Linked DNA regions of Homo sapiens. The protein of the gene in region 1 interacts with the protein of each later gene in a pairwise test. Each region holds a gene or a part of one and is shown on either strand. Other genes may lie near its edges.

Region 1 (7,298 bases):
AGAAAACTAAGCATGTCATGGTCATGCATATTGATCACAAAGTGAATGGATTCATGATACAGGGCAGATCATGAAATAGAAGTTTCCAGCCCCAGCAGTCCTGCTCCTGTGTATGCCTTCCTCACTTTTCCTGCCTCCTCTCCAAACCTTTGTATTGATGTTTAATGTGATAAATAAGCTTTGCCTGTTCCAGAATTTATGTCAAGGGAATCATACAATGTGTATTTTCATGTGTGTCTTCTTTTACTCCTATATGATATTTGTGCAATAATGCAGTTAGCTGTTGTTTGTTGCTTTTCATTGCTGCATGATGTGCATAGAACATTTACAATCTGTTCAGTCCTGTGTCTCTGGATGGGGAAGTGAGTCTCGTGCCCTCAGGAACAAAGAGGAACCTGGATGGGCACGTGTAGTCATGCGGTTCCTTTGCTGATCCCTCTCACCGCACCTACCCTGATGTCTTTTGGTTTGGGAGGAGAAGCACTTCCTCTAGCTCCTAACTGGTAGCAGGCCTCCTGGTAGGTCATCCTTGCCAGTGGTACCAGGCTTGCCTAATGTTGCTGGCAGGACTCCCTTTCAATACAGAGTGGGAATGGGCTTAGCTGACCCACCTCCTGTTACCAGATTTGGTTCTGAGAAACAGAGGACTAGATCACTTTCTTCTGCTGAGTGGGGGACTGAAGATGCCCGGACACTCTGTTGATCCCTGATTCTGGGGTCCCAAACTATTTTGCCTTCCTCTTTCCACCTTTCAGAGTTTTCCTGTGTGTCTTTCATTACTTGCAGAGTTTAGAGTTGTATTTATTAGGGAGTAGCAGAGAAAAAGGAGTCCATGTACCTGGTCAAGACCATTGTTATTCCACCAAAACCAAATCAGATAAAAGTGAGGGCTTATCTAGTTAGAGAGTGGTGTGGTGCCCAGAAAAGCCAATTTTTGGCTGCTGTGTCATTTATTTCCTCAATGGCAACCTTTCAATTTCCTTCTAAACTTCAAGGAGGAAAAGTTCCACTATGAGACACATAGTGGAAAAATACATTTATTTAATCAGAATATCTGGAGAAATACATGCACAGTATCAGGAAATTTATTTCAGTTCTTACTGTGTCTGTCTTACCAACACAAGCAACTGTTAAATTACATGAATCACAATTTTGCTTGTTAAAATAAGAAGAATGAATGTACTAAGTATAAAAATTGAAGAGTTCATTTTAAGTCAAAATTACAAAAATTTGTAATAGCTTTTTACACTATAAAAGTTGTTTTCAAGTTTACTATTTTGTTTAAGGTATTTATTTTGTTTTGAAAATTAAGCATCCTTTGAAAGAATGTATTACCTGCACTTTTAAAAATTAATAAAAGTTTAGAATTCAAAGAAAGCACCTAAAAATTAGTAAAATCTTTTATAGTTATTATTTAAATGAAAATTTTTTATTTTTCGTTAGAAATTTCTGGGCTCCCTGTCAGTTCTCTCATGGGTTGGCATCTCTCGTAGTAGCAGTGATCATCCATGGGTGTCAATAAATGGCTCAACGTTCAAATTGAAGTAAGTTTTTTGAATGATGCTATATAGTAGAAGAATATAAAAGGACAGGTTCAGAATAACATTATGAATAAATTTAAGTGCAATTATAGCCATAAATAAAGATGTTGAAAGTTAGTGAAATGTTGATATAAATGTTAAGGAATGATCCACAATTACATTTTCTGTGGTTTTAGTTACCCAGGCTCAACCACGGCCAAAAATATTAAAAGGAAAACTCTAGGAAGAGAAAATCCATGAGTTTTAAATTGTTCACTCTTCTGAGTAGTGTGATCAAATCCTTTATATAGTGTATGGCTCCATCTCACCTGGGACATGAATCATTGCTTCGTCCAGGATACCTGCACAGCCTAAGTTCCCTGTCCATTAGTCACTCAGCTGTCGCAGTTATGAGATTGACTAAGGTGGTATGGTACCGCTTGTGTTCAAGTCACTCTTAGTTTACTTAATAAGGGCCCCAAAATGCAAGAGTATTTATGCTGGCATATTGTTATAATTGTTCTTTTTCATTATTATTAGTTTGTTTTAATCTCTTACCGTGCCTAATTTATAAATTAAACTTCATCAAAGGTATGTATGTATAGATAAAACACAGTATATATACAGTTCAGTACTATCTATGATTTCAGACATCCACTGGGGGTCTTAGAACATATCCACTGTGCAGATGAAAGGACTACTTCATTCAGTTTTCATATTATGATATGCAGTTTTCCCAGCATTATTTTTGAAGAGACTATCTTTTTTTTCCAATGTATGTTCCTGGCACCTTTGTCAAAAGTGAGTTGTCTGTAAACAAATGGATTTGTTTCTGGATTCATTGGTCTGTATGTCTGTTTTAATATGAGCACCATGCTGTTTTGGTTTCTGTAGCTTTGTAGTATATTCAGGTAATGTGATGCCTCCAGCTTTGATATTTTGCTCAGAATTGCTTTGGCTATACTGGATGTTTTGTGGTTCCATATAAATTTGAGGATTGCTTTTGCTATTTCTGTGAAGAATGTCACTGGCATTTTGATACAGATTGCATTGAATCTGGACTAGCTAAGGTTTTATTTTGAATGTTGAATAGAAGGCACAGAAAGGTTATATGTATATCATATGTATCAGTTCCTATTTTAGGTAAAAAGATTGCAACATTTCATCCATATTTACAAAGTGTGTTCGTTTTTATTATACCTTTCTCATATTGAAGCAGCTTTATCATATTCCTGTTTTTCTAATAGATTTTGTTATCAATTGTAACATTTTTATTATTTTGGCATCAGTTGGAATGATACATGTTTTCTCTGCATAATCTTAATAAGTAAACTATTTCAATTCTCTCAAATGTTAAACCAGTCTGAAATAAAACCATACTGGTCATTCTGTATTGCCTGTTTAAATTTATTAATGCACAGGAGATTATACTGTGTTTTTATTTATAGCTATGTACATGAAAGCCTTTTCTCTTAAGGGTATATTGGGAAGCATTTCTCTTTTTCTATAACCTAGAAGACTTTGTGTAAGGGTACTGTTTTAAAATGTAATTATTCATTAGTGATGCCATCTGAGTGTGTAGAATGTTTTTGTAGGAAAGTTTATGTAGGAAAGTCAATTTCTTTAGCACATACAGACATTTCATCCATATTTACAAAGTTTATATTTATAGAGGTTACTCAGATTTCTGTTTGTTGTATTGCAATTTGGTAATTTGCATATTCAAGAATTTTCTATCTCATATAGATATAAAAGTATTCATAATATGGTTTCATTATCTGTTTAATATCTGTAAAAACCATAATGGTTTTCCCTTATTTAATCTAGAAAATTATTTGAGCCTTCTCAAATTCTTTAAGTCTTTTATCAATTTTATTAAGTCCTTTCAATGAAAATATCTTCAGCCTCATTGATCTTCTCTACTGTAATTTTGCTCTTTGTCATGATTTTTTACTATTTATTGTTTTCTTCCTACCACTTTACTTCTATTTAATTTCAGTTAATTTCATATTTCTGTTTTTATTCAGACAATTCAGTATCTGCAATTTTGTTGCAATATATGAATTTAAGGCAATCCATTTTTCCCAAGAAAATATTTTGCTCTATTTTCCTTTTAATTGATGTAAAAATTGTGAACATTTATTGTGATAATTTATTTGGCCCTTAGGTTATTTAGAATTATATTACTGAATATAAAACCATATAAAGTTCCTAAAGTTTTGATTATTGACTTCTGTGTTAGTAAACTGTAGTTAGAACATTTTCTGTGAGGCTAGAAATGTTCTTCATCTCTGTGTAAATATAGCTAGTGTGACTAATAAACTTATGTTTAATGTTATTTACTTCTAATTAATTAATATTAAACTTGAATTGGTGCATTTTAACTGTCCACTGGCCAACTTTGGCTAATGCTACTGTACTTATAGCAAACTTCTAAATTTTATATTAAAATGCATAGGTTTATGAAAATACAGTGTAGCTTAAAAATATTAGTATTCCGAATTAGTATACAGTTTATATGTGTGTGTATACACAGGTGTGTTGGCTAATTGTCTAGTTTAAATCTCTGTATAGAGTCAGTGATGTATCTGTTTGTGTGATGAGATGTGAAAGAGAAGTGACTAAATCCCTAAATTTATTAATTACTCATTTATTTCTTTCAACTTTATATTAAATGTGTATTATTAGGTACATACAAATTATTTTAAAATTACTAATGGTATAGATAATAAATATATCACTATGAATATGCTTCTTCATTTTTAATAACAACTTCTGTTTTATATTATTACAGTATATTAAAGTGGTTTTCTACCAGTTTGTGTTGCATGGTATATTTTTTCCATTTTTCATCTTCATATTTTTTATGTTTATGTTAAAGGAGTATTTTTATGAGTATCTCATAAAGACAGCAAACTACTATTTTTAAATACAAGCACTTTGTAACAAATCAAAATCATTCCATATGTATTTGTTAAATTTTAAAATAATTATTTATATTTTCAATTGTATGTATAAACGTGTAAATATAATATGTTTATTGACTGTAATATTATATTATTTCATTTCAGTTAAACACTTCCAATTCTTGACCTCTCTTTTTCTTAACTTTTATATTAAGCTCTGGAGTACCTATGCAGGTTTGCTATATAGTTAAACTCGTGTCACGGGTTTGTTGAACAGACTATTTTGTCATCCAGGTATGAATCCTAGTACCCATTAATTACTTTTCCTGATCCCTTTCTTCCCCCACCCTCTACCCTCAGGTAGGCCACAGTGTCTGTTATTTACCTCTATGTGCCCATGTGTTCTCATCATTTAGCTCCACTTATAAGTGAGAACATGCAGTATTTGGTTTTCTGTTTCTGTGTTAATTGGCTTAGAATAATGGCCTTCCACTGCATCCATGTTGCTGCAAAGGACATAATCTTGTTCTTTTTTTATGACTGCCTAGTATTTCATGGTGTGTATGTACCACATTGTCTTCATCCAGCCTATCCTTGATGGGCATTTAGGGAGATTCCATGTCTTTGCTATTATGAAGAATGCTGTGATGAACACGCAAGTGCATGTGTCTTTTGGGGGATATACCCAGTAGTAAGATTGGTGGATCAAATGGTAGTTCTAAGTTCGCTGAGAAATCTCTGGACTGCCTTCCTCAGTGGCTGGACTAATTTACATTCATACCTTCAGTGTGTAAGTGTTCCCTTTTCTCCAAAGCCTTGCCAACATCAGTTGTCTTTGACATTTTAGTAATAGTCCTTCTGACTGGTGTTAGATGGAATCTCATTTCAGCTTTGATTTGCATTTCTCTGATAATTATGTTTCATATTTTTTTCATGTGTTTTTTGGCCGCTTGTATGTCTTCTTTTGAGAATTGTCTGTTATGTCTTTTGCCTATTTTAATGGGATTATTTATTATTTGATTATTTAATTGTTCCTCATAGATTCTGGATATTGGACCTTTGTCAAGTGCATAGTTTGCAAATATTTTTCCCATTCTGTAGGTTGTCTGTTTATAGGAGCTTAAAGTTTCTTTTGCTGTGCACAAGTTGAGCTTATTTTGTATGTGGTATGAGGTATAGATCAAAATATTTTGTGTGTGCATATTGATAGCCAAGTGTTTAAACATTTGTTAAAAAGATTATACTTTCTCCACTGAATGCCTTTACATCTTTCTTGAACTATTCTACATTCCATATATTTGTGGATACATTTTTGCACTTTGTAGTCTATTTGATTAATCTAGGTATCTATTTATATACTGGTTCCACATCTTGTGAAAATTGAGAGAAAGCTACAGAGACTTCCCATGGTCCTCACTCATGCACTACTTCTCCCATGATCAATATCCCCCATCAGCATGGTATATTTGTTACAATTGAAACATCATTATTATTGAAAGACCATAGCTTATGTTAAGTTTCACTCAGTGTTTTACACTTTATGGGTCTGGCCAAATATATAATGATAATGACATGTCTTTATCATCATAGATCATACAGAATAATTGCATTGCCCTGAAAATCTTCTGTGCTCTGCCCATTCATCCTTTCCTCCTTCAAACACATGGCAAGCATCGATTTTTGTACTGTCTCCATAGTTGTTTACTTTTCCAGAATGTCATATAGTTGAACTCATACAGTATGTTACATCTGAGCCATTACATCTTAACCATATCATATATCTCAACCATTTTTAAGTGAACAGGTCAGTAGTGTTAACTATATTCACATTTTACAACAGATTTCTAGAATTTGTTCATTTTGCAAAACTGAAACTCTATACACATTGGACAACTCCCCTTTTTGCCCCTAGCAATCAGCATTCTACTTTCTGTTTCTATGAGTTTGAATACTTTAGATATCTCATATAAATAAAGCAGGCAGCATTTTTTTTGTGTGACTGGCTTATTTAACTTAGCATAATGTCCTTAAGATTTATCCATGTTGCAGCATGCAACAAGACTTCCTTTTTTAAAATAAAGTATATTATCCTTTTTAAAAATGTTTAAACAACTTTATTGAAGTATGATTGACATACAAAAAGCTGTACATATTTAATGCATACAACTTGATAAGATTAGAGATAAGTGTATAACCATGAAACCACCACAATCTGTGTCATAAACATATCTGTAATCTCCAGAAGTTTCCTTCCACCTTCTTTATTATTATTTTTTGTGATACAAACACTTAAGATCTACGCTCTTAGCCAAATCTTTAGTATACAACATTATTAACTACAGGTTCTGTGTAGTAAAACAGATATCTAGACCTTGTTCATCTCGTATAACTGAAAGTTTGTACCCTTTGACTAATACTCTCCTGTTTTTCCCTCTCCCAGCCCCTGACAACCACCCTTCTACTCCCTGCTTCTATGAATTTACTATTATTTTACTCAGCATAATGTCCTTCAGGTTTATCCATGTTGTTGCAATAGCTTTTTCTTCTTTTTAATGGCAGAATTGTATTCCATTTTATACACATGCCACATTTTCTTTATCCACCAATTCATCAATGGGCTTGTATGTTGCTTCTATGTTTTAACTGTTGCAATGAACATGGGAGTGCCGATACCTGTTCAAGTTCCTGATCTCAACTCCTTTGGCTCTACAGAAGTAAGATTGTTGGTTCATATGTCAACTCAATTTTAAATTTTTTGAGGAACCTCCATAATGTTTTCCATAGTGACTGTACCATTTTACATTTTCATTAACAGTGCACAAGGGCCCAAATTTCTTCACAACCTAAGCAATAATTGTTATTTTCTGCTTTT
Region 2 (5,020 bases), on another chromosome or scaffold:
TTAAATCCTGTGGCCATGATAATTAACTCTTCTTTATCCAACGGGGTTCCATCCTCACTCTGTTCAACCAGCACCAGCATCCACAGGGGTGGACCCACACCCTCTCCCACCTCCCGCAGTCCACGTGGGCTACTGCTGAAGATCCTCTGCCATCCAGGCCCTTCCTCCTCTCTTGCTAGAGAGGCCTGGCACCTTTCTAGCAAGGTCACGTGTTGACTGATGTGGGCAGAGGGGCAGTGGGACATGTCTGGGGACATGTGGTTTCTCAGCAGACAGAGACTTCCTCCTCCTCCTCCTCCTTGTCCTCATGCAAGGGGCGAGCACTCGCCTTAAACTTGTAGACACCACAGTTCTGGAGGGGGCACTCCTTCCTGGGCCAGCCCAGCCTGCCAGAGGCATCCTCTTATTGACACAGCGTGGAGGGGGGCTAACTAGGGGTCTTTTCCTCCCCACCCACCCCTCACCTGCCTTTCTCCACAGACCCTCACTCTCTTTGCTATGACATCACCGTCATCCCTAAGTTCAGACCTGGACCACGGTGGTGTGCGGTTCAAGGCCAGGTGGATGAAAAGACTTTTCTTCACTATGACTGTGGCAACAAGACAGTCACACCTGTCAGTCCCCTGGGGAAGAAACTAAATGTCACAACGGCCTGGAAAGCACAGAACCCAGTACTGAGAGAGGTGGTGGACATACTTACAGAGCAACTGCGTGACATTCAGCTGGAGAATTACACACCCAAGGGTAAGTTTCAGATGGCCCAGGACAGCAGGGAACAGATACAGTGGTAGGTTAGAGGCATTTATAGTTTTCATGTAAAAATACAAAAGGGTCCTGGGCACGGTGGCTCACGCCTGTAGTCCCAGCACTTTGTGAGGTAGAGGTGGGCCGATCACAAGGTCAGGAATTCGAGACCAGCCTGACCAACATGGTGAAACACTGTCTCTACCAAAAATGCAAAAATTAGCCAGGCATGGTGGCGCATGCCTGTAATCCCAGCAACTTGGGAGGCTGAGGCAGGAGGATCCCTTGAACCCGGCAGGCAGACGCTGCAGTGAGCCGAGGTGGTGCCACTGCACTCCAGCCTGGGCAACAGAGTGAGACTTTGTCTCAAAAAAAAAAAAAAAAAAAAAGCCAGGTGCAGTGGCTCAAGCCTGTAATCCCAGCATTTTGGGAGGCTGAGGCAGGCGGATCACGAGGTTAAGAGATCGAGACCATCCTGGTTAACACAGTGAAACCCTGTCTGTACTAAAAATACAAAAAATTAGCCGGGTATGGTGGCGGGCGCCTGTAGTCCCAGCTACTTAGGAGGCTGAGTGAGCCGAGATCGCGCCACTGCACTCCATCCAGCCTGGGTGACAGAGCGAGACCCTTTCTCAAAAAAAAAAAAAAAATACAAATGGGAAGGTCATCATACCCCTCAAGAGTCTAGAGGCAAGGCCAAGATGTAGCAGAGAGAGTAAGGCCAGCAAATTGTAAGGGGAACAGGATGGGGGTGCAAAATTTGTCAAGATCAGAGCTGATCTCTCTCTGATGGGGGCAGAACCCCTCACCCTGCAGGCAAGGATGTCTTGTGAGCAGAAAGCTGAAGGACACAGCAGTGGATCTTGGCAGTTCAGTTTCGATGGGCAGATCTTCCTCCTCTTTGACTCAGAGAAGAGAATGTGGACAACGGTTCATCCTGGAGCCAGAAAGATGAAAGAAAAGTGGGAGAATGACAAGGTTGTGGCCATGTCCTTCCATTACTTCTCAATGGGAGACTGTATAGGATGGCTTGAGGACTTCTTGATGGGCATGGACAGCACCCTGGAGCCAAGTGCAGGAGGTAACAGGAGAAAAAGAAACGGGGATCTCAAATGTGATCAGAAATGGTGACCTCAAGAAGTTAGTTCTTGAGTTCAGCTTCAATCATCCCAGTATACACATTCACGTTAAAATGACCTCCTCGTGGGGCGCTCCTCCTGGGGTTACTGGCATGCCTGTGCTCTCCCACCGTCCTCTTCCTTCTCCCTCCTGACTCCTATTCCTCACTGCACTTGCTCCTGCTCCCCGCCCTGTGGATTTCTCACCAGCCTTGAAACTGCAGGTGTCACTGTTTTCAGACCTTTTTCCTTAGTGTTTCCTCTTTTGAGAATCACTTTTCCTTTCCTTTCCCTGGTCTGGTTCTGGAAATCCATCAAAACCACTTCCAACGCCAGCCCAGAGATCCTCCCCTCCCCAACTCTGGGGCATCACCTCCTCTTCCCCCACAGCAGGAGGGTGGGGTGTGTTGTCACCTTGCTTCCCTCAGCAGCTGTGTGAGCTCCCTGAGGACAAGACTCACCCCGTCTCCCTTCCTAAGCCAGGACCTGTCATACTGGCTGCCCCACACCAGGGGGGAGAGGACAAAACTTTTGCCTTCCAGGATGACCTAGGGTGGCAGGAACTGAGGAGGTGTCTCCTCAGATTTGGGGCCTGGACAAGGGTTGTCACTTTTGTGTTTCCATTTCAGCACCACTCGCCATGTCCTCAGGCACAACCCAACTCAGGGCCACAGCCACCACCCTCATCCTTTGCTGCCTCCTCATCATCCTCCCCTGCTTCATCCTCCCTGGCATCTGAGGAGAGTCCTTTAGAGTGACAGGTACTGTGGGCAGAATTGGAAGTGGAGCAAGGAGCAGGTGGGTGAGGAGGCAGGATGGGGAAAGAGAATTCCCGGAGTCCCGCCCCTCCCCGTGGCTGGGACCTTCTCATCCTAACATGAGACAGGTGAATGAGACCTTGTGTTGCCTGTTGGCAATGTTGGCAATGACCTGGGCAGCTCAGCCCTGAGTTCTGATGGATTCTCACCTTCAGAGTCCAGAGGGAAAGGGAGGGGCCCATACCAAGGCTCAGGGTCTGTTGAGCTTGAGAAGGTTTAGCAAGTTCAGGCCTGATTCAGAGCAGGTTCCTATTCAGGAAGGGTGTGTGGCCTGCAGGCAGCAGGAATTCAGACATGGGCAGTCCTCTTAATTGGGTTAGGTGCATCATGGTAGCTTTACATGAGGTGTGACAGGGGAAGGGGGATTCCATCTCTGAGGCTAAGAGAGATCTGGGTGTAATCCCAGGAGGAGGGGGCTGGGAGAACCTTGGTACACCTAATTGAAAAGGAGGGAGTGCAGGGCTGCCTTCCCACAGAAAGTGGCTTGGGTTCCAGGAATTAAGGTGGAAGGTGAAGAGTAGAGGCTGCTCAAGAGAAGGATTTTTAAAAAGTCAGTCCCATGGACATGTGCAGCTCGAGTCTGGGCCCTGAGGCAGCTCCCCTGCCATCATCCTCCTGCACACCCCAGATCCTGAGCCCACTGATGGCCCTGCCTGGAGCAGAGTGGACTCAGAGGAAGGGGGGTCTGAGCTGCTGCTGGGGTTCCACAGGCACCACTGGGCTGGACAAGGAATTGATAAGGTGGAACAGGGACAGTCACCTTCAGAGCAATGGGTGCTGCTCCCAGTGTGAGGAGAGGCTCAAGAAGAAGGGGAAAGAAGGATGTTTGCCTGCAGGCCCACCAAAGGCCAAGGGCACAGGAATATGGAGCCCTCTTTTTGGAAGTCTGCCCCACCCCTTGCCTGTTTTAGGCCTTCACATCAGATCATAGAGAGGGCCTTGAGTGAGGGCGCGGACCCATCACTACCAGCTTCAGACCTGCAGGCCCCTCCACTCCATCCCCTGGTCAGGTGCAGGGCCTGGGCTGACTCTGTGATGTGACAGAGGAGGAAAGAGGTAGGTCCAAGCTGCAGTCGCCAGGGTTGAGGCTCAAGGGAAAAATAGGTCCCTTAGTGCAGGGGGCTCTGAGACATAGAGTGACTAGGGAAAGATTACCCTGGAAAAGTGATCCGGGTTCTCTGCCCCTTAAACCAACATTTGTGTCCTTTCTGAAGGTTAAAGCTGATACCAAAAGGCTCCTGTGAGCACGGTCTTGATCAAACTCGCCCTTCTGTCTGGCCAGCTGCCCACGACCTACGGTGTATGTCCAGTGGCCTCCAGCAGATCATGATGACATCATGGACCCAATAGCTCATTCACTGCCTTGATTCCTTTTGCCAACAATTTTACCAGCAGTTATACCTAACATATTATGCAATTTTCTCTTGGTGCTACCTGATGGAATTCCTGCACTTAAAGTTCTGGCTGACTAAACAAGATATATCATTTTCTTTCTTCTCTTTTTGTTTGGAAAATCAAGTACTTCTTTGAATGATGATCTCTTTCTTGCAAATGATATTGTCAGTAAAATAATCACGTTAGACTTCAGACCTCTGGGGATTCTTTCCGTGTCCTGAAAGAGAATTTTTAAATTATTTAATAAGAAAAAATTTATATTAATGATTGTTTCCTTTAGTAATTTATTGTTCTGTACTGATATTTAAATAAAGAGTTCTATTTCCCAAAAACCTACGGTGTTTAGAATTTTGTTGTATTACTCAGTAGGGAATTAATGTTATTTCATTTTTCCTCCATGATATGGAGTAATAAATGAGTGATTCTACCAGATTTTGTGTGGAAAAAGAGAATCTACAAAACATGGCTGAGAAAAATCAGAGACAACACAAATACATAGAAAAATATTTCATGCTCATGGGTTGGAGAATCAATATAGCTAAAATGGTCATACTTCCAAAAGCGATTTATAGATGCAACACTTTCTCTATCAACACCAATGTCATTTTTCACAAAATTAGAAAAATCTAATCTAAAAGGTATTTGGAATTAAAAAAGAGCCCAAATAGCCAAAACAATCATAAGCAAAAAGAACAACGCCAGAGGCATCACATTGCCTGACTTCAAACTATAATATAAGGCTACGGTGATCGAAACAGAATGGTACTGGTACCAAAATAGACACTTAGATCAGTGGAACAGAATAGAGAGCTCAGAAAGAAACCTTCACACCTTCTAACCTTCAACAAAATCAACAAAAATAAGCAATGGGAAAGAGTCCCAATTCAACAAATGGTGCTGGGATAACTGGCTAGCCATGTGCAGAAGAATGAAACTGAACCTCTA

Evidence for each region.
Region 2: the proteins of KLRC4-KLRK1 (region 1) and ULBP2 interact in binary tests that used the Homo sapiens proteins (3 or more experiments, as listed by UniProt).

Annotation. Positions count from the first base shown.
Region 1 is NC_000012.12:10,400,096-10,407,393, reverse strand, and holds part of KLRC4-KLRK1 (NKG2-D type II integral membrane protein), read left to right. Parts: exon of another isoform or gene 1-10; intron 11-7,298.
Region 2 is NC_000006.12:149,944,829-149,949,848, forward strand, and holds the end of ULBP2 (UL16-binding protein 2 preproprotein), read left to right. Parts: intron 1-480; coding exon 481-744; intron 745-1,543; coding exon 1,544-1,825; intron 1,826-2,491; coding exon 2,492-2,601; 3' UTR 2,602-2,623; exon of another isoform or gene 2,624-2,628; intron 2,629-3,894; coding exon of another isoform or gene 3,895-3,899; 3' UTR 3,900-4,407; downstream 4,408-5,020. UniProt on the Homo sapiens protein: Binds and activates the KLRK1/NKG2D receptor, mediating natural killer cell cytotoxicity.